Linked DNA regions of Homo sapiens: region 1 is linked to region 2. The links come from fine-mapping of genetic effects on gene expression. A gene starts in region 2. The other region holds a variant in brackets. All regions are shown on one strand. Distances are from middle to middle.

What was found. PIP is the estimated chance that this variant, and not a neighbour inherited with it, causes the effect.
Region 1: its variant is the best candidate, but not a certain one, in a credible set for the expression of DEPDC7 in whole blood (TOPMed, PIP 0.73).

What each region holds. Positions count from the first base shown.
Region 1 is chr11:33,043,845-33,056,281 of GRCh38, forward strand. TCP11L1 (t-complex 11 like 1) reads left to right here. Exons shown (of 10, transcript NM_018393.4): 2 at 1-92; 3 at 10,749-10,881. Among named protein-coding and RNA genes, the nearest start is that of TCP11L1, 10 kb to the left of the region's middle. RefSeq lists an enhancer at 6,017-6,517. The variant C/T (reference allele first, on the strand shown) is at 8,948.
Region 2 is chr11:33,012,867-33,024,638 of GRCh38, forward strand. It overlaps DEPDC7 (DEP domain containing 7), which reads left to right and starts at 3,012. Exons shown (of 9, transcript NM_001077242.2): 1 at 3,012-3,162. The coding sequence starts at 3,090. It overlaps LOC105376615 (a long non-coding RNA gene), which reads right to left and starts at 2,924. Exons shown (of 4, transcript XR_931167.2): 1 at 2,411-2,924. RefSeq lists silencers at 2,857-2,906, 3,227-3,286.

The sequences.
Region 1 (12,437 bases), 31 kb after region 2:
CCTCGAAGATGCTGTGGAAGGTGCTGATGAAGCCTTACAAAAAGCAATAAAGTCAGACTCCTCCAGCCCCCAAAGAGTGCAGAGACCTCACTGTAAGCAAATTTGACTTTGGTTAGATGCAATATTGTCATTGTTTTCAGGTGACGGTTTTATGAGGCCTCCTTGTGCATGTGGCCGTGAGCTAGGTTCTAATAATATAACATTGCCAATGTAGCATTTAGGAATAATAGCAGTTCCTCAGCTGGCAGCCTAGCTACTTGTGGATTTTCAATTGCATGGGAAATTAACAATTTAGAATAATGTCCAGAACGTTCCTGTCTTTCTCCAGCCTCAGTGACACTCCAGTCTCTGAAGTGCTCTGAGAAATAGGAGGGTGGAGTATAAATTGCAGCTTGTATTGAAAGAGTGTTTGAAAAGTCTGAGGCTAATTCCAGCCAGGACTGTGCTTGTGCAGGTTAAAAAAAAATGTGAGTAAGTTCACCACACCCTAATTCTCTGCCTGGGGGCTTAGTTCCCACAAGCTTGAGGGGATTCAGTTTGCTAAATGTGTGTGGTGAAGTCATTTCAGATCCCTGGCAAGGAGCAAGCCTCTTAAATGAAAGGGTGGCAATATCTTCAGGCATTCCCAGTGGTTGCCTCAACTCACGTCTTTTATGAAGAGTACCTTAAGCATTTTGAAGTGAGTCCAAAAATGCAAGTTTTTAAGAGGGAATGTCATAGTCTAAGAATGTCGGTATTGATGTTATCCCTTTAAATTGTAGATGATCAGTAGTTGTACGTATTTGGAAAAAGTACAGACATTTTTGGGTTTTGGGGTGTGTTTCTTCTAAAATGATCAAAGCCCTTCCCGGGCAATTTATTAGTCAACATACTATTCTTCTAGCAAACATTAATGGACCCTATTTTATTCTGATTTATTATCACATAGATTTTAATAAATCAACTATTAGGTCAAATTGTGTCCAAGGAAACATGTTGTTGCTAGCACAGTCTATCATGCATTTGTCAGGCCTGACTCCAATATGTGTAGTTAGAAAGCTTCTGTTTTCCTGTCTTTAAAATGAGGAAAATACAATATTTCTTGGGGTAGCAGTAAAGATTAAATGAATTCCTATAAGGCACTTAGAACAGTGCTTCACAGGTAATAAATGCTTAATAAACATTAGTTGTTGTTACTACTATTGCTACTAACATTATGTCATCTATTGCATTTAAAGATGCCAGGATTGGCCAGGCATGGTGGCTCATACCTGTAATACCAGCACTTTGGGCGGCTGAGGCAGGAAGATCACTTGAGTCCAGGAGTTCAAGACCAGCCTAGGCAACATAATGAGACCCCATCTCTACAAAAAATAAAAATTAGCCAGGCATGGTGGTGCATGCCTATAGTCCCAGCTACTTGTGGGGCTAAGGCAGGAGGATCACTTGAGCCTGGGAGGTGGAGGCTGCAGTGAGCCGAGATCACGCCACTGCACTCCCGTCTGGGTGACAAAGTAAGACCCTGTCTCAAAAAAAAAAAAAAAAAATTAGCTGAGCATGCACGTGGTTGTAGTCCCAGCTACTTGGGAGGCGGGGACAGGAGGATCACTTGAGCTGGGGAAGTCAAGGCTGCAGTGAGCCGTGATTGTGTCACCGCACTCCAGCCTGGATGACAGAGTGAGACAAGCCTCTCTCAAAAAAATAAAAATAAAAAAAATAAAGAGGCCAGGATTGATTGCTGTAATGTAGATGTATATGGCTAACATGATAGCTTTACAACCTATAGTTTCTGCTAAAGAAGAACTTTTGGTTTAGGTCTTCAGTCACCCTTTATTGGTTGGTTGGTTGTTGGGATGGCCAGACCCAACGTGGAGGTGACGAAGTCCAGTGGAGTCAAAAGAATGAAAAAGACAAGTTTAAGAGTGCATAAAGTGGGTCCGGGGGCCAATGCTAGTATGGAGGCTGCGAAGGCCCCGAGCTCTGGAAGCCTGCACTATTCATTGGTGATGAAACAAAGAAGCAGGTGGTGAGGATGTGGGGGTTGAAAGAAAGCAGTGTATCAAGCACATGATCTACAGCTGTGACGGTTTAGCATTTTCTTTGCAGCATATGGAACATGTTCTGCTACTTGAGATAATGGGAAACATGTTCTAGTTTAAGATACAATAGATCTATGAGCCTAGGAGTGCTAGAAGCAAGGAGCCAGCAAGTCTAGACACATTCCAGAGGCCACGCCCTGAGCCCTGGATTCCATTCAAGCCACGAAGGGTTTTATGCCCTGGGCTTAGATTATGGTGCTGCAGGGCAGCCTTCTGCCCTTTAGCACAGAGCTTGGTGTTCCCAAGGCCATGAGGGGTTTTAGACCCTGGACCCTGGACATGTTCCAAGACTCTTTTACATTAAGTGAGACATGCAAGCCCTGCTTTAGCTTCTCCCAACAGTTGGTTGATTGGTTTTAATTTTTTTAAACAATTTTAACTTTTATAGGTTCAGCCATTCTTTGGTTGATGGCTTCGCCTTTGGCATCTTGTCAGCCTGATGGCATGATTCCAAATTAATGTCAAACCAGTACTAAGCTACATTATCTGAAATTGTGTGTAGTTATGCCCTTAAGGCAAGAATACTTATCCTGGGACCTATGATCAAGATTTAGGGGATCTAGTAATAACCAAAAAAGTATATCAACATTTGTTTGTATATGCATGTTTTTAGGAATAAGGTCGTGGAAGCTTTCATTAAGTTCTCTTAGTAGTCTGTACCAAAATAAGGTTTAAAATCAATGCCCTAAGGTATTCCTTTTGGCTGCCTTCCTATTTCTCCTGTAGTGCTAGGTAGGTACAGGGCTATAAACCCAAAAGATAAAGCTAAGACCTCATTATCTGGGCATCAGGTAAGGAAGCATTATTGAACACATAGAGCATAAATAAGGATTTACAAAATATGGAATTAACAGTTTACAGACATTTCCCCCAAACTCTGTAAATTTGTAGCTACTGAGTTTAAAGTAACTCTAAAATCATATTTGGAATTCTACAAATTAAAACGTAAGTAGCAAAAAGAGAACATTTATTGTTTTAAATTATAACACAGAGTAATACTTTAAGAGTGGAGTTGCTAGGCCAGGCGCATTGGCTCATGCCTATAAGCACTTTGGGAGGCTGAGGCAGGTGAATCACCTGAGGTGAGGTCAGGAGTTCGAGACCAACCTGGCCAACATGGTGAAACACTGTTTCTACTAAAAATACAAAAATTAGCCGGGAGTGGTGGTGTGTGCCTGTAATTGGGAGGCTGAGGCAAGAGAATCACTTGAACCTGGGAAGCAGAGGTTGCAGTGAACCGAGATTGTGCCATTGCACTCCAGCCTAGGGGACAAGAGCGAAACTTCATCTCAAGAAAAAAAAAAAAAGAGTAGAATTCTGATGTAACCGATGCAGAATATTGAAAAAGGAAAAATGGCTGGCTTGTAAAAAATTTATTGGTACTGATTTGAGGTGGTGATTTGATTGTAAAAGATTATCTGTTCTTTAAACAGAGTAAGGATCAGTCAACTGTAACTTAACAATGTTTTCTCTAAAATCTTCTACTACTTATACTTTAATGCTCTTCTCACAAAATACCCTCTGTTCTAACGTTTAATCACCTAGTTGACCAGTAAAAGATGCTATATTCAGATGACAAACATCAATTGTTATTCCAGTTAATATCTCCCACTTAGGACCTTTGTTTATTGGATCAGGTCCTTGTGAATTTAATTAGTAGATCCCAGTCATCTTTAGATGAATAGATGACACGAGAACTTACATTTCTAAAGCTCATGACTAGACTTTGAATTATGGTGTCTCTGTATTCAGTCAGTCAAATATTTATTGAGTGCATACTGTATGTCAGGGATCCAGCAGTGAACCAGGCACATATTGTCTCTGTCCTCATGGAGCTTGCAGGCTAGCGACCAGGAAGACAAATTAACAAGCAGTTTCCAACAACATAATAAGTACTATGGGTAATCTGTACCCTGGTTTTACTGTGCTCATTCTATAGTAGCTGTTTGGGTGACAGTTGCAATCTTGCCCTCCATAAATGTCCGTCCACTTATGTAACTAACAGCATCTTTTCAGAGTGTATAGGCATCTCAGGACACCTTAGTAAAGATAGAGAGTACAACCATTCTAAATTAGAACTTCATTTTATTTTGGAATCTGTCTGCCAGCCTCTCTAAAGTCATGTTTAACCTAATATGGTTTTCAGTTTCTCTAACAGGGCATCAGTGCGCAAATGCTGTAACAAAATAACAAAATTTAGCAACAACTTTAGCTTTGTATCACGTAAGATAAACTCCAGGGTAAGTTACATGTATCTTTACATTTTTTTTTTTTAAGACCGGATCACTCTATGTTGCCCAGGCTGGCCTTGAACTCCTGGGCTCAAGTGATTCACCCACCTCAACCTCCCTAGTAGCTGAGACTACAAGTGTGCACCACCATGTCTGAGTTGACCTTACCATTTTTCATGGCTCTTATTACAACCCAGGTTCTCTTAACAAATTGAGGTGAAGACGTGTTGTCCACCAAATTGCATCTTTATGCAATTTTATGCAATCCTTACCAAGTTTTCATTTATGAAATTGGTAAATTTGAGAACTCTCACAAAACAAAATCCCCACAACCCTATAATTTGTATGCAGTGAATAATTCCTCTGTATGTACATCGGTAACATGTCCTGATCATATCTTAGAACTGTAGCTTTTATCTATCATGATCAGATACCTGTCATTGATAAGTTTGATTTTAAGTAGTCTCTTAACTTGGACAGTTCCTGAAAATTTTCTTCTTCCTAATGGTGAGGTTCTTAGTACTTGGTGCAAGCTGTTTTTTTCCAAGTATGCCCAAAACACTGAGAATGCACTTGTTTAAAATTCGGAGGATTCTTATATTTCATAGCACACCCTTAAGTCTCTTCTTTTTGCATATGGAGAAACACTGACCCTGCAAGATTTAAGTGACTTGTTCAAGGCCGTACTCAACAGAGTCCAGAGGAAGTGAAATTCCTTCCTGATTTGCTCCAGCCACTGTGTTTCATGACTAGGCAGCATAGTAACGGTGCCTATTATTACCCAGATGACTAAAATTATTGGGAAATAACAAATCCGGCCAGGCGCGGTGGCTCATGCCTATAATCCCAGCACTTTGGGAGGCCAAGGCAGGTGGATCATGAGGTCAAGAGATCAAGACCATCCTGGCCAACATGGTGAAACCCTGTCTCTACTAAAAATACATAAATTAGCTGGGTGTGGTGGCACACGCCTGTAGTCCCAGCTACTTGGGAGGCTGAGGCAGGAGAATCACTTGAACCCGGGAGGCGGAGGTTGCAGTGAGCCGAGATCGCGCCACTGCACTCCAGCCTCGTGACAGAGCAAGACTCCGTCTCAAAAAAAAAAAAAAAAAAATTCACCCAGAGGACTTGATGTGATGTATTTCTGTTGTTTTCATAAATTTCAGATGGTAAGACATTGATTATTTTTGAAGGGGTGGCCTGCCCCTCCACAACCTGTGGGTGTTTCTCGTCATGTGGGACGAGAGACTGAGAAAAGAAATAAGACACAGAGACAAAGTATAGAGAAAGAAAAGTGGGCCCAGGGGACCTGCACCCTGTCTCTGAGTTCCCTCAGTATTTATTGATCATTATCTCTACCATCTTGGAGAGGGGGTTGTGGCAGGACAATAGTGTAATAGTGGGGAGAGGGTCAGCAGGAAACCTGTGAACAAAGGTCTCTGTGTCATAAATAAGTTTAAGGAAAGGTACTGTGCCTTGATGTGCACGGATACAAACTTCTGGGTGCATTAAAGAGCAGTATTGCCGCTAGCACCTCACCTCCAGCCCTAAGGCAGTTTTCTCCTATCTTAGTAAATAGAACATACAATTGGGTTTTACACCAAGACATTCTATTGCCCAGGGATGAGCAGGAGACAGATGCCTTCCTCTTATCTCAACTGCAAAGAGGCCTTCCTCTTTTACTAATCCTCCTCAGCACAGACCCTTTACAGGTGTTGGGCTGGGGGATGATCAGGTCTTTCCCTTCCCAGGAGGCCATATCTCAGGCTATTGCATGGGGAGAAACCTTGGACAATACCTGGCTTTCCTAGGCAGAGGCCCCTGCTGGAGGGCCTTCCGCAGTGTATTGTGTCCCTGGGTACTTGAGGTTAGAGAATGGTGATGACTTTTAACAAGCATACTGCCTTCAAGCACTTTTTTAACAAAGCACATCCTGCATAGCCCTAAATCCATTAAACCTTGAGTCAACACAGCACAGGTCTCTGCTGTGAGCACAGGGTTGGGACAAGGGTTACAGATTAACAACATCTCAAGGCAGAAGAATTTTTCTTAGTACAGAACAAAATGGAGTCTCTTATGTCTACTTCTTTCTACATAGACACAGTAGCAGTCTGATCTCTCTTTTCCCCACAATTTTTTGCAAAAGCAAGGTTAAAAAACTTGGGAGCCCTAATAATCTCTGAGTTTCTTCTTAAGGGGTAAGACCTTGGTGGAGTTTAATAACACCTGATGCTTGATAATAACACCTGATGCTTGATAATAACACCTGATGCTTGATATTGATGTACCCACAGTGGAAGTTTCATTTTCTGATAACTGATAACAGAAATAATTTAAAAATAAGCATATATTTATACATATGTATATATACAGGAGATCCCTACTGAACTGGGTGTGCACCTATAGTCCCAGCTATTTGGGAGGTTGAGGCCACAGTGAACTGTGATCACCACTCTCCAGTTTGGGCAACAGAATAAGACCCTATTTCAAAAAACAAATAACAAAAAAACCTTTTTATTTTCTTAATAGAGTCTATCATGGAATGTACATTTTAAATTTTGATAAAATCCAAATTATCCATTTTTTATTTTGTAGTTTGAGTTTTTTGTATCCTATCTAAGAAATCTTTGCCTAATCCAAGATCGCAAAGATTTCTATCTGTGATTCTTTTTTTTTTTTAGACAAGGTCTCTATCTGTCACCTATGCTGGAGTGCTGTGGCGGGGTCATGGCTCACTGCAACTTCTGCCTCCTGGGCTTAAGCCATCTTCCCGTCTCAGCCTCCTGAGTAGCTGAGACTACAGGAGCATGCCACCACACCTGGCTAATTGTATTTTTTGTAGAGATGGGGTTTCGCCATGTTGCCCAGGCTGTTCTCAAATTCCTGGCCTCAAGCAATTTTTGCACCTTGGCCTCCCAAAGGGCTGGGATTACAGGCATGAGCCACCATGCCCCGCTCTGCAATCCATTTTGAGTTCATTTTTGTTTATCATTTGAGAGAAGGATCTAGAGTAATTATTATTAATTTTTTTTGAGACGGAGTCTCGCTCTGTCGCCCAGGCTGGAGTGCAGTGGTGCAATCTCAGCTCACTGCAAGCTTGGCCTCCCGGGTTCACGCCATTCTCTTGCCTCAGCCTCCCAAGTAGCTGGGACTACAGACACCTGCCATCACGCCCGGCTAATTTTTTGTATTTTTAGTAGAGATGGGGTTTCACCGTGTTAGCCAGGATGGTCTTGTTCTCCCGACCTTGTGGTCCGCTCGCCTCAGCCTCCCAAAGTGCTGGGATTACAGGCGTGATAGAGTAATTCTTTTACATATAGATACTTAATTGTTGTAGCACCATTTGATTAAAAACAAACAAACAAACAAAACTATCCTTGCTTTTCTTTTTTTGAGACAGAGTATTGCTCTGTCACCCAGACTGGAGGGCAGTGGCACAATCTCAGCTCACTGCAACCTCTGTCTCCTGGGCTTAAATGATTTTTAGTAGAGACAGGATTTCGCTGTGTTGTCCAGGCTGGTCTCGAACTCCTGGCCTCAAGCAGTCCACCTGCTTCAGCCTCCCAAAGTACATGAGCCACCGTGCCCGGCCTATCCTTGTCTGTTGACCACCTATATATATATGTGTGTGTATATTAGTCTATTTCTGGATTTTCTGCCCTGAATTTCTATATATCCTTATGGGAAAAATACACTGTCTTGTTATAGTTTTATAATAAGTCTTGAAATCAGTGTCAGTCCTCTAGCTTTATTTTTCTTTTTCAAAATAGTTTTGGCTTTTCGAGGTCTTTTGTGTTTCCCTATACATTTTAGAATTAGTTTGTCAGTTTCAACAAAAAAGCCTTCTGATTGGGATTTCATTTAACCAATAGATTGATTTGGGGAAAATTGACATCTTAATAATATACCCATAGAGGGGAATAAGAGACACTGGGGTCTACTGGAGAGTGGGAGGAGGGAGAGGATCAAGAAAAATAATGAGTACTAGACTTAATAACCGGGTGACAAAATAATCTCTACAACAAGCCCCCGTGACACGAGATTACCTGTATAACAAACCTGCACATGTACACCTGAACTTAAAAGTTAAAAAAAATTTTTTTAATTGAAAAGATATATTGGGCTTTGATTTTGGATATTTACTATATTTTAGCAATATCAACAAAGCCAGATTTATTTATTCTGTATTCTTATTCATATTCTTTGGAAATGCTGAGAATGTTGTGAGGAAGAATTCTGAGTTTTCCCAACTTCCCCTTGTGACCAAATAAAGTTTTTTACCAGGCAGGATATGACCAGCTCTTCGATTTGGTTCCTTTTTTTTTTTTCTTTTTTTTGGTGCGCAAAAGAAAAAGGAAAGAAAATAACTTTTCACCAATGTAAGAAGATCTTTTAAACCTGGGCAAACCAGTGACATTACTTATCTAATTTTAAGGCCAGATCTTATCACTATCACATAAAATTAATATATTCATCTTCTAGGCCAGTACTTCTCAAACTGTGGTGTTTGGAGCCATCAGCATCAACTGGAGACTTGTTAGAAATACAGATTCTGGGCCGGCTGCTGTGGCTCACACCTGTAATCCCAGCATTTTGGGAGGCTGAGGCAGGCGGATCACTTACTTAAGCTCAGGAGTT[C/T]GAGACCAGCCTGGGCAACATGGCGAAACTTGTCTTTAAAAAAATAGAAAAAATAACCAGACATGGTGGCATGTGCCTGTAGTCCTGGCTACTTGGGAGGCTAAGGTGGGAAGATGATTTGAGCCTGAGAGGTTGAGGCTGGGGTGAGCCATGATTGTGCAACTGTACTCCTGTTGGTGACAGAGTAAGACCCTATCTCAAAAAAAAATAGAAAAATAAAAAATGCAGATTCTTTGGCCCTGCTCCAGAGCTGCTAAATCAGAAACCCTGAGAGGTGGGCTCAGCAATCTGTTTTCACAAGTCCTCCCTCTGACTCCATGATAGGCTAAAGTTTGAGAATTGCTATCAGAGACTTTTTTTTTTTTTTTTTTTTGAGACAATCTTCCTCTGTCGCCCAGGCTGGAGTGCAATGGTGTGATCTTCGCTCACTGCAACCTCTACCTCCCAGGTTCAAGCAATCCTTTCGCCTCAGCCTCCCAAGGAGCTGGGATTACAGGCATGCACCACCACGCCCTGCTAATTTTTGTATTTTTAGTAGAGACAAGGTTTCACCATGTTGGCCACGTGGGTCTCCAACTCCTGACCTCAGGTGGTCCACCTGCCTTGATCTCCCAAAGTGCTGGGATTACAGGTGTGAGCCTTGCCTTATCATAGGCTTTTAAGAGTAAGAATTCCCCTTTGTTCCTTGGTTTAGAACCTTCTTTCTGAATGATCAGTCTCAAGCTTTATCAAAAGAGAAGTATGGACACAAATTTTGAGGCCGTTGCAGCAGTCGATACAGAAGTAAAATCTACAGGACTTGGATAACAGAGCAGGGGAAAGAGAGAAATCAGAGATGACTCTTTTTCAAAGTTTTTGATTCACTGGATCAGCATTCTAGAAAATTCTTGTGTCACACATCTTTTGATCTGTCCATTGACCACTGCAGAGCTATCATATTCTGTCACAGTATCCTGTACAAGATAGTGGTTTTAGCATTGTTTAAACAGCACCATCGGCACCCTAAAGGACTTGATGGTATTTTAATTTTTTACAACTTTTTATTTTTATTTTTTTGAGACAGAGTCTTGCTCTGTTACCCAGGCTTGAGTGCAGTGACATGATCATAGCTCACTGCAGGTTCAAGCGATCCTCCAGCCTCAACCTCCTGAGTAGCTGGGACTACAGGCATGCACCACCATGCCCGGTTAGTTTTTACATTTTTCTGTAGAGACAAGATCTCACTATGGTGCCCAGGCTGGTCTCCAACCCCTGGCCTCAAATGATCTCTCGCCTCGGCCTCCCAAAGTGCTAGCATTACAGGTGTGAACCACTGTGCCTAGCCTTGATGCTATTTTAATTTGGGGAGATTCATTTGTGGCAGTGTTAGTGGTAGTGCAAAAGTAAACTGCTAATGGGAGCAAAAGAGAAGATCTTAAATCTGGTGTCTTCTTTTTTTTTTTTTTCTTTTAGGGTAGACAGGAGGCAGAAAGACTAGAAAATAAACCCTCAGCTTATGGGACAGATGATCATCTGTAACTTAAGTTTTCCTAGGTTTCAGTTTACTGTAATTATTTTCCTTTGACCAGTCTTAGTAAAAACCAGATGTTTTGAGTATTAATAAATGATCTCTGCTTTTAGGATTCAAGGGTAAAAAATGAATATGAAGTAACATTCTGTTGCTGTTTGAAAATGCCAGAACAAACATTTTAATAGACGCAATAACTGAAATTATTGTCTGGTACCAGAACCACTGTTTTCTTATTTTAGTAGAAATTCAGATCCAGGGAAGCAAATCTCTTACAGTGAGTTTCTGTTACAGCTAGTCCTCCTCGCTTTGTGACAGTAGAAGAACTTCTAGAGACAGCGAGAGGTGTCACCAACATGGCTCTAGCCCATGAAATTGTAGTAAATGGAGACTTTCAGATTAAACCAGTTGAATTACCAGAAAACAGGTAAGGTGGTTGCTAAATTATCTTGCTTAGTAGAACACTGTCATTTCCCAGTTTTGAAAATGTTTCCTTCAGTTGATACCAATATATTCAAACGTATTTTTCCTTTTGTACATTATTGCTAAAAAATATTCCTGAACAAGGAACAACCTAAAAATCAAATAAAAGCTCTAAAAATCTTTTGTGAAAGTCTGCCTACTCAGTAGGATCTAGCTGCCTCATCTTGTGTTTTCATTGCCTTGTTTCATTCACTTCTTTGAAACTATCACACTGCACTATAGTTGTTGGTTTCATCGCAAAGGCGAAGACTGTGGGTTATTCTCTGTGTCCCTAGTGCCTGGCACTTAACCATTTTTTTATTGAATCAAAAACTCTATTGGTTGTAAGGTGCACCTTTTAAAAATGTGCTGTCATAAGAAAGAGGAAACACTGCCCATTATAATTATAAAAATGCCATTGATTTTAAGAAAGATCCAAGTTTCTGAGAGATTAAAATATTGGGGAGGGGGGAGTTTGTTTTAGAATCAAGGAAATATGCGTGCAAGTGCCTTTCTGTCAGCAGCTCACCAAAGTCAGGATTCTGGATGGTGCCTGAGAGTCTCTTAGCCTGTCCTCATGGTTGCAGGATGAATGCTGCAGCTCCAAGCATCCCATAATACATCAGCCTTCCTGGCAAGAGCAAAAAGTTTGGGAGGACTAGGGCTCTCCTTTTGTTGGAGAGGAACATCTTCCCCTGGAGTCATGAAACAGACATCTGCTAATATTTTGTTAATCAGAATTTAGTCACATGCTACCCTTGCTATAAGTGAACCTGGAGAGCTTAAGTTGGCTAAAAGGGAATGAACTGCTGTGATGGGCTTATTAGATTAGTCATGATTTATTGTCACAGGCAGAGTATATTGTTGCCCTGAAAAACACTGGGATTCTGTTAACAAAAGGAGGAGGAATGGCTGCTGTGCTGGCAAGTGTCTCCCACAAGAAGCTTCTAAATATGACTTCACAGAGATTTCTTATATCTGCAAAGATGGTACTTTTTTGCATTTAATAGTGAAGAATTGCTTGTTTTGTGCTCAAGACAGAAAGACATTTTTATTGTTGTTGTTGTTGTTTTTTGAGATGGAGTGTCGCTCTGTCGCCCAAGCTGGAGTACAGTGGCATGATCTTGGCTCACTGCAACCTCTGCTTCCCAGGTTCAAGTGATTCTCTTGACTTAGCCTCCTGAGTAGCTGGGATTATAGGCGTGCGCCACCATGCCCAGCTAATTTTTGTATTTGTAGTAGAGACAGGGTTTCACCTTGTTGGTCAGGCTGGTCTCAAACTCCTGACCTTGTTATCTATCTGCCTCAGCCTCCCAAAGTGCTGGGACTACAGGTGTGAGCCACTGCGCCAGCCATTGTTGTTTTTTGAGACGGAATCTTGCTCAGTTGCCTAGGCTGGAGTGCAGTGGTGCAGTCTCAGCTCACTGCAGCCTCCATCTCCTAGGTTCAAGCAATTCTCCTGCCTCAGCCTCCTAAGTAGCTGGGACTATAAAGCATGCACCACCACACCCAGCTAATTTT
Region 2 (11,772 bases):
AAGTGCTGGGATTACAAGCATGAGCCACCACACCCGGCAATTTTCCAATTTTCTTAGGCAATTAAGATATGTGTGTGCTCCCGTTAGAATGGCGATCATTAAAAAGTCAGGAAACAACAGATGCTGGAGAGGATGTGGAGAAACAGGAACACTTTTACACTGTTGGTGGGACTGTAAACTAGTTCAACCATTGTGGAAGACAGTGTGGCAATTCCTCAAGGATCTAGAACTAGAAATACCATTTGACCCAGCCATTCCATTACTGAGTATATACCCAAAGGATTATAAATCATGCTGCTATAAAGACACATGCACACGTATGTTCACTGCAGCACTATTCACAATAGCAAAGATTTGGAACCAACCCAAATATCCATCAATGATAGAATGGATTAAGAAAATGTGGCACATATACACCATGGAATACTATGCAGCCATAAAAAAAGGATGAGTTCATGTCCTTTGTAGGGACATGGATGAAGCTGGAAACCATCATTCTCAGCAAACTATCGCAAGGACAAAAAACCAAACACCACAGGTTCTCACTCATAGGTGGGAATTGAACAATGAGAACACTTGGACACAGGAAGGGGAACATCACACACTGGGGCCTGTCGTGGGGTCGGTGGAGCAGGGAGGGATAGCATTAGGAGATATACCTAATGTAAATGACGAGTTAATGAGTGCAGCACACCAACATGGCACATGTATACATATGTAACAAACCAGCATGTTGTGCACATGTACCCTAGAACTTAAATTATAATAAAAAAAGATATGTGTGTGCTGTAATAATCAGAGAGTATCAATACAAGCAGGAGATGAATAGTAATGCATTTGATAAGTGCCACAGGTGCTCAGAGAAAAAAAACACACCCGGGTAACCTGGAAAAATCTGTCCAGGGAAGAAAGTGGGAAAAGGGATAGGCATTTCCTATCCCATGGTTGTAGAAAGTATCTGAGTAGAGATGAACATTTCAGCATTCCAGAAGAGGTAAACAATTATTGCATAACCTGGTGAAAAACTCTCTGAAATGTTATATAAAGTATCAAAATGGTCACTGAGGTCACCAAGCTTTTTCAAATATTAGTGTTTTTCAAGATTTGTCTTCTGAGACAGATGAGCTTTTCCCCCCTCCCATGCAGTGAGGGAGGACTTGTGTGTTCATTCAGTTATACAGCACGGGATAAAGTTCATTGGTATACTGGGTGCCTGAAACCAGCCCTGAATGCATCCTCTTTCTGTGTGTAGCAGCCAATTGAGAGATTACAAAGAAAATCCTTAAACAGAAGTAAAGCAGGGTTTTACTACCATCAGGGGAAGAGGTCACATTAAAAAAAGGTTGCCAACTGGTTGGCAACCTTTTTTTTTCTTTTTTGAGATGGAGTCTCACTCTGTCATCCAGGCTGGAGTGCAGTGGCACAATCTTCGCTCATTGCAACTTCCGCCTCCTGGATTCAAGCGATTCTCCTGCCTCAGCTTCCCAAGTAGCTGGGATTACAGGTGCCTGCCACCACACTCGGACAGTTTTTGTATTTTTAGTAGGGGTTTCGCCATCTTGGCCAGGCTGTTCTCGAACTCCTGACCTCGAAGATCCCCCTGCCTCGGGCCCCCCAAAGTGCTGGGACTACAGGCGTGAGCCACCGTGCCTGGCCAGCTTTTTCTAACACTAAGCAGCAGCAACTGGCCCCCACCTCCCACCCACAAACCCAAGTCCCCAGGGGCAGCTTCTTAGTATGTATTCTCTGAAACAATCCCATGTAGAAGCTCTTTCCAATAAGCTAAATAATGAACTCCCACTTAAACACCATTCTAATTTACACCTAAATCACACAAGCATCCTCCTTCTAAGAAGACGTCATAATCGTTTTGAAAATCATTGCAAAATTCCCAAACTTGAAAAAAAAGAAAAAAAAAAGGGCAAGTGTCTGGCAATTGGATTATTGGTCTCTAAGACCACTCATCCTTTCAGAGGTATCCAGCATTGGATCCCTGGCCTGGCTTCAACTTCCAAGTAACTAAGATGTGTCCCATTAATAGCCCTTCCTCCTTTTCTCTCCTCACCTTCACTCCAACCGGCAGCAAACTGTCCCTACCCACCCGACCCACAGTTCCTTTGGAGGCAGCACAGATTTCCTGGCAGCCAGTCCCAGGGTCTTTCGTTGCTGCCCTCCTGTGACCTCTAGACATTGCTCTCCTGGGCCACATAGGATTTGTTTGTTCTGCACAGGTAGGGATGTCTGAAAAACTCGATTATTATTGTTATTATCACTATTACTACTACTACTATGACATAATTTTAAGCACTTACGTTCCGGACGCAGTTACTAAATGCTGAACCTGAATTGGTTCCTATAAACCTCGTTAAAAAACAAACAAACATCTCAGTGAAGCAGGTACTAAACCTACCCCCGCATCACAGGTGAGGACACCGACGCACAGAGCAGTTAGGCAGCTTGCCAGGTTCCCGACTTTTTCTATTTCTTTTTTTTTTTTTTTTTTTTTTGAGACGGAGTCTCGCTGTGTCGCCCAGGCTGGAGTGCAGTGGTGGATCTCGGCTCACTGCAACCTCCGCCTCCTGAGTTCAAGCGATTCTTGTGCCTCGGCCTCCCGAGTAGCTGGGATTACAGGCGCCTGTCACCAAGCCCAGCTAATTTTTGTATTTTTAGTAGAGAAGGGGTTTCGCCATGTAGGCCAGGCTGCTCTCGAACTCCTGACCTCAGGTGCTCTACCTGCCCTGGCCTCCCAAAGTGCTGGGATTACAGGCGTGAGCCACCGCGCCCGGCCTGGTCCCGAGTTAATCTACGGCAGGCCGCGGTTCGAATCCCGCTGGTGTGAGCCGCGGGCCGCGTAGTGCCGGCCCAGGGAACCGCTTTGTCCCCGACCACCGCTCGCGTGGCATCGCGCCCGAGGAAACTTGGATCGCTGGCGCCGCGGGCTACGTTCAGTGGTTGCCAGAGAGACACGTGACCGGCAGCGGGGGCGGGGCCTGCAGGGAGCCACGCCCCGCACAGTTAACAGACGGGCGCTCAGGGAGCTAGGGAGCTGTGAAGCTGCTGGAGGAGTTGGCGTCCGGGGAGCAAGGGCCATGGCCACCGTGCAGGAGAAGGCTGCTGCGCTGAACCTCTCGGCTCTCCACAGCCCCGCGCACAGGCCTCCGGGTAGGTGCCGAGGACTGCCGCCTGGGATGGCGCGGGGCGGGCTGGGGTGCGCGGGCTGGGTCCCGGCGCGGGGCGGGCGGCGTGGGGCGTTCGGCCGCCTGCGCCTGTCAACGGCCGGCTGGGCGAGCACAGCACAGCTGCGACCACTTGGCCAACGCCCCCGCCGAGCGGGCGGATCGAGTTCCTCTCTGGCTGGTGGGCTGCAAGCGGCAGAGCCCGCCCGCACAGCCCAGCTTTTTTCTTTCTACCCAGACTCTCAACTTGACCGCGCGTTGGTCTGTGCGCCCGCTAACGTGCCAGGCACGCGCCGGGGAGCTCCGGGATATGCTCCGCGGTGCTACCGGTGACAAGTGTGGTATCTGGAATTTGTGTAGTTCTTTGCCCCCTGTCTCAACCACAAACCTTGACGACACAGTATGGCCAGGGGCCGAGCTCCTCCCTTGCCCACTTTGTTCTCCAGACTGCTAGGAGTCAAGAGTCAGCTTGTCTCCCCAGACTCTTCCTGGGAGGGATGAGAGGTTTATGTGAGTTCTACTGGCAGGAATTTGGCATAAAAGGTATTTATTAACACTTTATGTATAAGCAGTATTTTAGTGAATAGAAGTTTTTGGCTAAAAAAACAGTTACATGAAATTAGGAGGGAAGTTGGCAAATTCTGCCACGGGCCTAATCGTGTCTTTTGGGGGCAGTTGATTTAGGATTCTGGTTTCTTTAAATGTTCAAACACATGAAGAGAATCGGATATCACTTCTAAAATGCTGGTTATAGCAGATCTACAACCCAGTTAATAGGGGTGACTCAGATAACTGTTAAGATACTCAGATAACCCTTGGCTTTTTTCTTTTGGTTAAGTTACAACTTTTTCCCCTTTCTGGAGCTCCAGTCTGGGATGTCGTAGGAATTAGTTCCCTTTCTGACAAAAGCCTTTCATTTGTAAAAACACCAACCAGTGAAACTGTGATTCCTTCCTCTGGGTCAAATGGGTGCTTCTCAGTGGCCCCACTCTTGTGTTTGACTTACTCACTAATGCTCATTTTAATCTTCAAAATGCTAACGACAGATTATGGTAGAGAACCATTTTTCACTTGTCCTTTTCTAAGAAAAATCATAATATTGACCTTAGTCTGCTTCCATGTAAAGGATTCAGGTAAGCACATAGTGGCCACATTGAGAATGTCTCCTTGATTTATGTTGTGAAGAGAAGACAAATGCTAAGACATTTGGGAATTTAAAACCAAATGACATTGAAAACAGTCTTGAGAAATCTTTTGGGCCCACTTACTCAGTGAAGGAAATTCCCAAATGTCACCTGCTTAAAATAAAAACATGGTACCCTGTTTTCTCTAATAGCTGAAATACCAATTCTGGAGCTTTGGGCATTTGTGAACAGGTTCTTAGATGGTGTAAGGAAGTATGTATTCAGAAATTAAGTAGATAACTCTCTAAGGGAAGAGTTGAAGTGCTGGTTATCAGGAATCAAAGGAACACTGTCCTCGGCACACTAGCTGCAGTGGACGGAGAGGGGCCCGCTGTTGTTCTCACTCGTTTTGCTTGCTACCGCTGGAATCCCGACCTGGTAACATTTGTTAGCCTTTCTTTCACCCTTTAGTTGCCTTGTCATAGTTCCAGTGAGCAAGGTAGTGGGAGCACACGGTTATTGGTTCTTTGCCATTCTCTTTCTGTGTGCTCTGGCAGGCAGCTTTGTACTTTTGTTTCTCCACCGATTAGTAACTCTCACTTACCTTAAAGGGGCTGTAATGACCAGGGACCTGATTTATGTACAAGAAATGAGATCTATATGCCAGTCTTCAGCCAGTATGTCAAAAACACTTGTCTTTTAATACGACAAACAAGAAAGTAGTCTGTTATCCTGTTATCCCTTTATACTGTAACCTAATTCTTTGAGTTTGCCTGGTATCACTTTTCCAGGGAGCTCAAAGTACTTCCCATATGCTGTCTCATTAATGTATGTGAATTAAAGCAGAGACCAATGTCTGCTTTTGCTGATAATTCTCGTAGATATTGTAAATTTTTCTTGTTGGTAGACTTCTTTTACCTACCTGCAGCCTTCTTTTCAGAGGCAATCGCAGTCTTCAGCATGACGCCTCTAATGCCAACTAGCAGGAAAATAAACTTTGGACTACCAGAACCAATATCCAGTAAAAGTGTTGTAATCTTGGGATCATAGTATAGAAAATTTTTCCACTCAGTCACAACTGTCAAGTTTTAACACCATAAACACAATTCTCTTTACATTTATCTATTAATATTTTCATGAGGTTTTGGTTACTATCCAACAAATGTCCTTTTTCTTTGTTGTCTTGACAATTCTTTGTGTGAGTAATATTTTAAAACCTCTTTTGAAAAAATCTTTCTTAAAATTCTCTTAAATCCTAAATGGTCTAGGATTTATAGATGTGTTATTTTCTGATGAAAAGTTAAATCCTCTGGTATGTGTCACATCTTGTCTTCTCATCTCCTGTTGGCCTTTATGTGATTGAATACTATTCAGAACTTGACATTATCATCCAGGTAGTAGGAGTAAATAAAAGGTAAACTCCTAAGGTTGGGGACTGTGTCCTCTGAGTTCAGAGGAAGGAAGAGGAAGAAAGATACCTCCCTTTTCTTTCTACTTTTAAAATAAAATTTTAGATTCACTAAATAGTATGGTCCATTTGTCATAATTAATGAACCAATATTGATACATATAATTATTAACTGAAGTCCACACTTAGATTCCCTTGGTGTTTGCCTAATGTTCTCTTCCAGGATCCCATCCAAGATATTATATTACATTCAGTTGTCATGTAATGAATCTACTCTTCTAGACTGTGACAGTTTGCTCCTTTTGTTTTTAGTGATACATCTGTTAATTTCTGGACATTTTGCGAGACACATTAACATATTGTCTCATGATCCTCGCAATGAGTGAGAGAAGTGGAGTTAGCTCTGTTTTGCAACAGAAAAGTTAGGCAGTTTGCCCAAGATCGTGTTATTAGTAAATGATGGACCCAACAACGGAACTCAGGTCCCTGGGACTGCAGAGTCCACACTGGTCTAACTCTTTGTAGTCACAGCACCTAGCACTGTGTCTGCTGCGTTAACTCAAGTTTCCATGTCTGAACAGTATTCAGTCAACCCAAGGTTTCTTAACCTTGGCACTACTGACGTTTTCTTTGTTGTGGGTGCTGTCTGTGCATTGTAAGATGTTTAGTAGCATCCCTCTACCCACTGGATGCCAGCAATACCCACACTCATTGTGACAATCAAAAATGTCTCCAGACATGTCCTGTTGGGGGTATAATCACCCACTGAGAACCACTGGGTTAACCTTCCTTTAAAAATTTTTTTTATGAACGGGGTGTAGTGGCTCACACCTGTAATGCCAGCACTTTGGGAGGTTGAGGCAGGTGGATCATTTGAGGCCAGGAGTTTGAGACCAGCCTGGCCAATGCGACAAAACCCCATTTCTACTAAAAATCCAAAAATTGTCTGGGTGTAGTGGCGCACACCTGTAATCCCAGCTACTCAGGAGGTTGAGGCAGGAGAATCGCTTGAACCCAGGAGGCAGAGGTTGCAGTGAGCCGAGATCACACCACTGCATTCCAACCTGGATGACAAAGTGAGACTCTGTCTCAAAAAAGAAAAAAAAGTAAGTTTTTTAGTAGTTAGCAATAATTAACAACTAACAAATATTGACTAACCAATTGTATTATATTGAGGCAATCTGTAAGGCAATTAAATAATTTAAACCTCTGTAAACCGCTAGGAAATCTGAAAGAAATCGGGCACTAGCTCACCATCTCTTAAAAGTTTTATGGAGAAACATCAACTGTCTGGATTCAGTTCCTTTTTTTTTTTTTTTTTTAAGTCCAGTCTAAAGACCGAGAATGGAAACAAATTTGTTATATGTTCATTAAGAGGTAGTGTGTTTTATTAATTCTGTGTGTATGTTTACCTTACATTGGGATCCAATTTTATAATGTGTATATTGATCTACTTCTAAAGATTTAATATAATCTTACTATTTGAAGTGATTATACAATTGTTTTCCCTTTAAATAGGTTTTCATAGGTTTTCACAGTAGGACTAGGGTTGCTGACAGGGTGGATTATGGTTGATGCTGATTATCCCTAATTTTTGGGTAAATGTAATTTCTTTACATTTTTAGGGAATTATTATGACTCAGTTATTTAGTGTGAATTCTTAGAAGTGAGGATGATTATTACTGGTACTACACGTATATATAAGTGTTCAATATTATCTTAGAAGTTTAACTTTTACTTTTGGTAAACGTTTTTTATGGTAGAGTTCAAATACATGTGAAGGGCAGCTTTTGAAAAATAGCTATTGTTTTCAAGCAAATAAGGATGAGACTGCTTGAAAAATGAAGGTTAACTAGCCTAGATTTATATAGTGCTTGAGACTATGTGTTGAAGGCTAGATAATCAAATTATTCCTGAGCCTCCTTAGGCAACCTTCCAAAAGGTTTTGTATCTGGTAGGGTCAAATTTGTCCATATGCTTCCTTTCTTGCCTATAGATCTGCCATATTTGGTGTTCAATGTCCTTATCTAAATGGAGGAGATATAATTTCAGTCTTTACATTCCTATAATCAGTTTATTTAAAGACAGGATCTCACTCTGTCACCCAGGCTGGAGTGCAGTGGTGCGATCCTAGCCCACTGTAACCTCGAACTCCTGGCCTCAAGCAATCTTCCCGCCATGGCCTCCCAAAGTCCTGGGGTCAGAGGCATGAGCCACTGTGCCTGCCCTGGCAGTTTAGACCTGAAACTAACCTAAAATATTGTGTTCAACTATTTTATCAGTAGATAAAGAAACCTACTTACAGAGATTGTCTCTTATCCAGAGTTTTTACAGCTGATCTCTAAACTCTTTGATTCCATTTGTTATGATGCTTTTAGAAAATGCTTGACCAGGCTGGGTGTGGTGGCTCACACCTGTAATCCCAGCACTTTGGGAGGCCGAGGTGGGTGGATCACGAGGTCAGGAGTTCCAGACCATCCTGGCCAACATGGTGAAACCCTGTCTCTACTAAAAATACAAAAAAAAATTAGCTGCACGTGGTGGCGCGTGCCTGTAATCCTAGCTACTTGGGAGGCTGAGGCAGGAAAATCACTTGAAGCAGGGAGTTGGAGGTTGCAGTGAGCCAAGATCGCACCACTGCACTCCAGCCTGGCGACAGAGTGAGACACCATCTCAAAAAAAAAAAAAGAAAAAAAAGAAAATGCTTGACCAAATGTAAGGAAGCATCAAGATGTAGATAGTGATGGATTTTAAAAGGTTGTTTAGCTCATATGAAAGTGAGGTTTGAGGACAAGCTGAACCCTTAATTCTGATTGCAAGACTTAAAAAACATTCATTGTCTATTTTTGGTCTCTTAAATCCTGTTTAGAAATCACAGTAAGTCATCTTACTGGGCCATGATCTGCTATACCAATATTCATTTCAGCTTTTAAATGACGATAAATAAGTTTCAAACCATATATGTTCAGCTGGTGAAGTCAGCATTTTAAAAAGCAGGTTATCCTGGTATGGGTTTTGGCACATTTACTTGTCAAGTCCAGGGTACATTGTGTATGAAAGCATCTGTATGAACATGAGCTAGTTTGTGGGTGGTGGTGCTTGAAGGGAAATATCCCAGGATGCAATGGTTGGGAATTAATGGTCAGTGAGAACAGAGGGGACCTGTGAGGGCTGCATTGTATCATGCCTGGAGGACTCTGGAAACCTGTGGTTCACAGGTGTCTACTCTCCTGCTCTAACTAGTTCTTTAATCTTTTATGCAGTGTTATACAACCTGCAGAACCTCCTGATTTCCCACAAGTTAATATGGGGAAATTTATTCTTTACCTCTTAATTCTTCTGTGAAGATTAGCCTTTTCTACTCATTGAGGCCAAATATCCCCTCTCACCGCCCTCTTCAGCTGTCTTACTGATCTGTAATTAATAAGTGACTCAGCCTTGTCATTTAGGATTTGTGTGCTAACCTACTTATAGCTCAAGTGTTATGACTTATGTGTTTCATCTTTATATTATCACTAGTCCAAAAGTCTGTCTCATTGGTTCTTAAAAGGCAGTCTGATTGAAGTTTGAATCTTGCATGTCTTCCTTTTCCTGTCTTACCCTGTGTACTGTGGTAGTATTTATTACAGAATTTATGATATCCTGCCTTATTTTATGAGTAGTGACTACTGTTTTTAAATAGCTTGGTTAAGGGTTCTTAGAGTTTGTTTTATCTCTTGGCTCTCTTAAAGCTGTTTCACTTAATCCAAGTTTCCAGTGAAAGGTTAATGCTTAAACAACTTATCTGATGGCTGACTTTTCATATATTTATGTTTAAGTACTAGGAAACACTAGTATATATTTATCAGCTGTGTAACTGTGGGCACATTTAACTCACAGAGCCTCAATTTCCTCAAAATAGGATTATTAATAATCATTTTGCAGAGAAGCTTATCAGAATTAAATGCGAGAAGACAGAGCCTGTCATAGTGTAAATACTCAAATGTTAGCTATTAATAATAAAGATTTGAAAAATTAAGCAGAAATTGTTTATTTTAAATCTTATTTATAATCTCTGGTATTTTAGGAAGTTAAGAATATTAGTCGCTAACAATGTTTAGGCATTGTGGCTGGAAATAGTACAACTACTCCTGAGTTCTGGATACCAGAAATGACCTGGACTTACTCTGAGATTCCATCAAATGCCTCATTCTTGCTCTGTTCAACAGAGACTAAATACTGTACCAAGAGTAGATCTAATTCCAGCTTGATTTATTTAGTCAATTCTCCATAATTCAGTTCCTGAAATAGCTCACATTATATTTGGAAGACTGGCAACAATTACTTCCATCTTTGTTTAGTACTGGCTTATGAAATATCTTCAAATTTAAAATACAATTTTGACAATTAAAAACAATCTTGCTTATTTTGGGAGGCCTAGGTGGGTGGATCACGAGGTCAGGAGATCGAGACCATCCTGGCTAACACGATGAAACCCTGTCTCTACTAAAAAAAAATACAAAAAATTAGCCGGGCGTGGTGGCGGGCACCTGTAGTCCCAGCTACTTGGGAGGCTAAAGGTGGGAGAATGGCATGAACCCAGGAGGCGGAGCTTGCAGTGAGCCGAGATCACGCCACTGCACTCCAGCCTGGGTGACAGAGAGGGACTCTGTCTCAAAAAAAAAAAAAAAATCTTGCTGATCATTTTAAACCAACGTTATAATAATGGGTAGGTGGTAAATTACCCATCTACTTTTGGTATTAGAAATATACAAATAAACAATAAAGGACTGTGTATTTGTGTATATGCTATTCATTTTCACTATAAAGATGTTTAAATTGCTAGTAGCTACAGAATTATGCTACAAGTGAAATCAGTGTAGTGGTTCAGTGTACTCCTTATATTTATTGCAACGTAAGAGATGAATTTCAAATGACCCACTTATAATTTATGGCTCTAGTGCACTAAGAGGAGTTTTTGTTTATTTATTTATTTATTAGACGGAGTCTTGCTTTGTCGTCCAGGCTGGAGTGCAGTGGCACTATCTTGGCTTACTGCAACCTCCACCTCCCAGGTTCAAGCAATTCTCTGCCTCAGCCTCCTGAGTAACTGGGATTGCAGGTGCCTGCTACCACGCCCGGCCAATTTTTGTATTTTTAGTAGAGAGGGTTTCACCACCTTCGGCAGGCTGTAAAGGAGTTTTAATAATGTCCTTCAGGAGCTTATCTTATGCTTTCTTCATCTTAAACATTCTATTTTGCCTAAAAAAGTAGGAAGATAATTTCAAGTAGCAATTTCTTTAATTATAATTCCCTTTTTTCCTTACCATTGTACTCATGCATATGGTTTTCCTTTCTAGACGATCTTAAAGGAAGTAATAACTTCACCTTCTCTGCCAAAATATCTAAAAATAAAGGAAGTAATATACTTAACATAAATGGGGGCTTAAATTAAGACTGCTGAATTTTCAGAGGATCACTGAAAAGTGTAACACATTAAAGGGCCTACTCTTTATGAAAGGAAAAAAGGGAGGGAGCCAGCCAGCCACCAAGTGAGTGATTCACTGGAATCCATTCCATCGGTTTACAAAAACCCAAGACCTGATTTCTTTCCTATTGATTTCCAAATATCTGCTAATTACAATGAGGAAAAATGTGATAGGATATTTTTGAAAGTTTGTTTTTCTCCTTTTGTGTTTGGCAAAAATCTTGCTTTCTTCTGTGCGTACTCTGTCTTTGCAATAGGTCATAAGCTCCTATAGGGCAGGAACCAAATTGTTACTTTACCGCGCATACAAAGTATTTAACTCATAAGCCTGCATAATAGGAGGCTTTAAAAATATTAGTTTATTCCTGCAATGATTGTGTGTATCAATGTGTATGTGTGTGTGTGTGTATACAATCATGCGTAGTGTAATGACGGGGATATGTTCTGAGAAATGTGTATTGTCAGGTGATTTCATTGTTGTGCAAACATCATAGAGTATAGTTCCACAAACCTTGATGGTATAGCCTGCTACACACCTAGGCTATGTGGTGTAGCCTGTTGCTCTTAGGCCACAAACCTGCAGAGCTATACTGAATG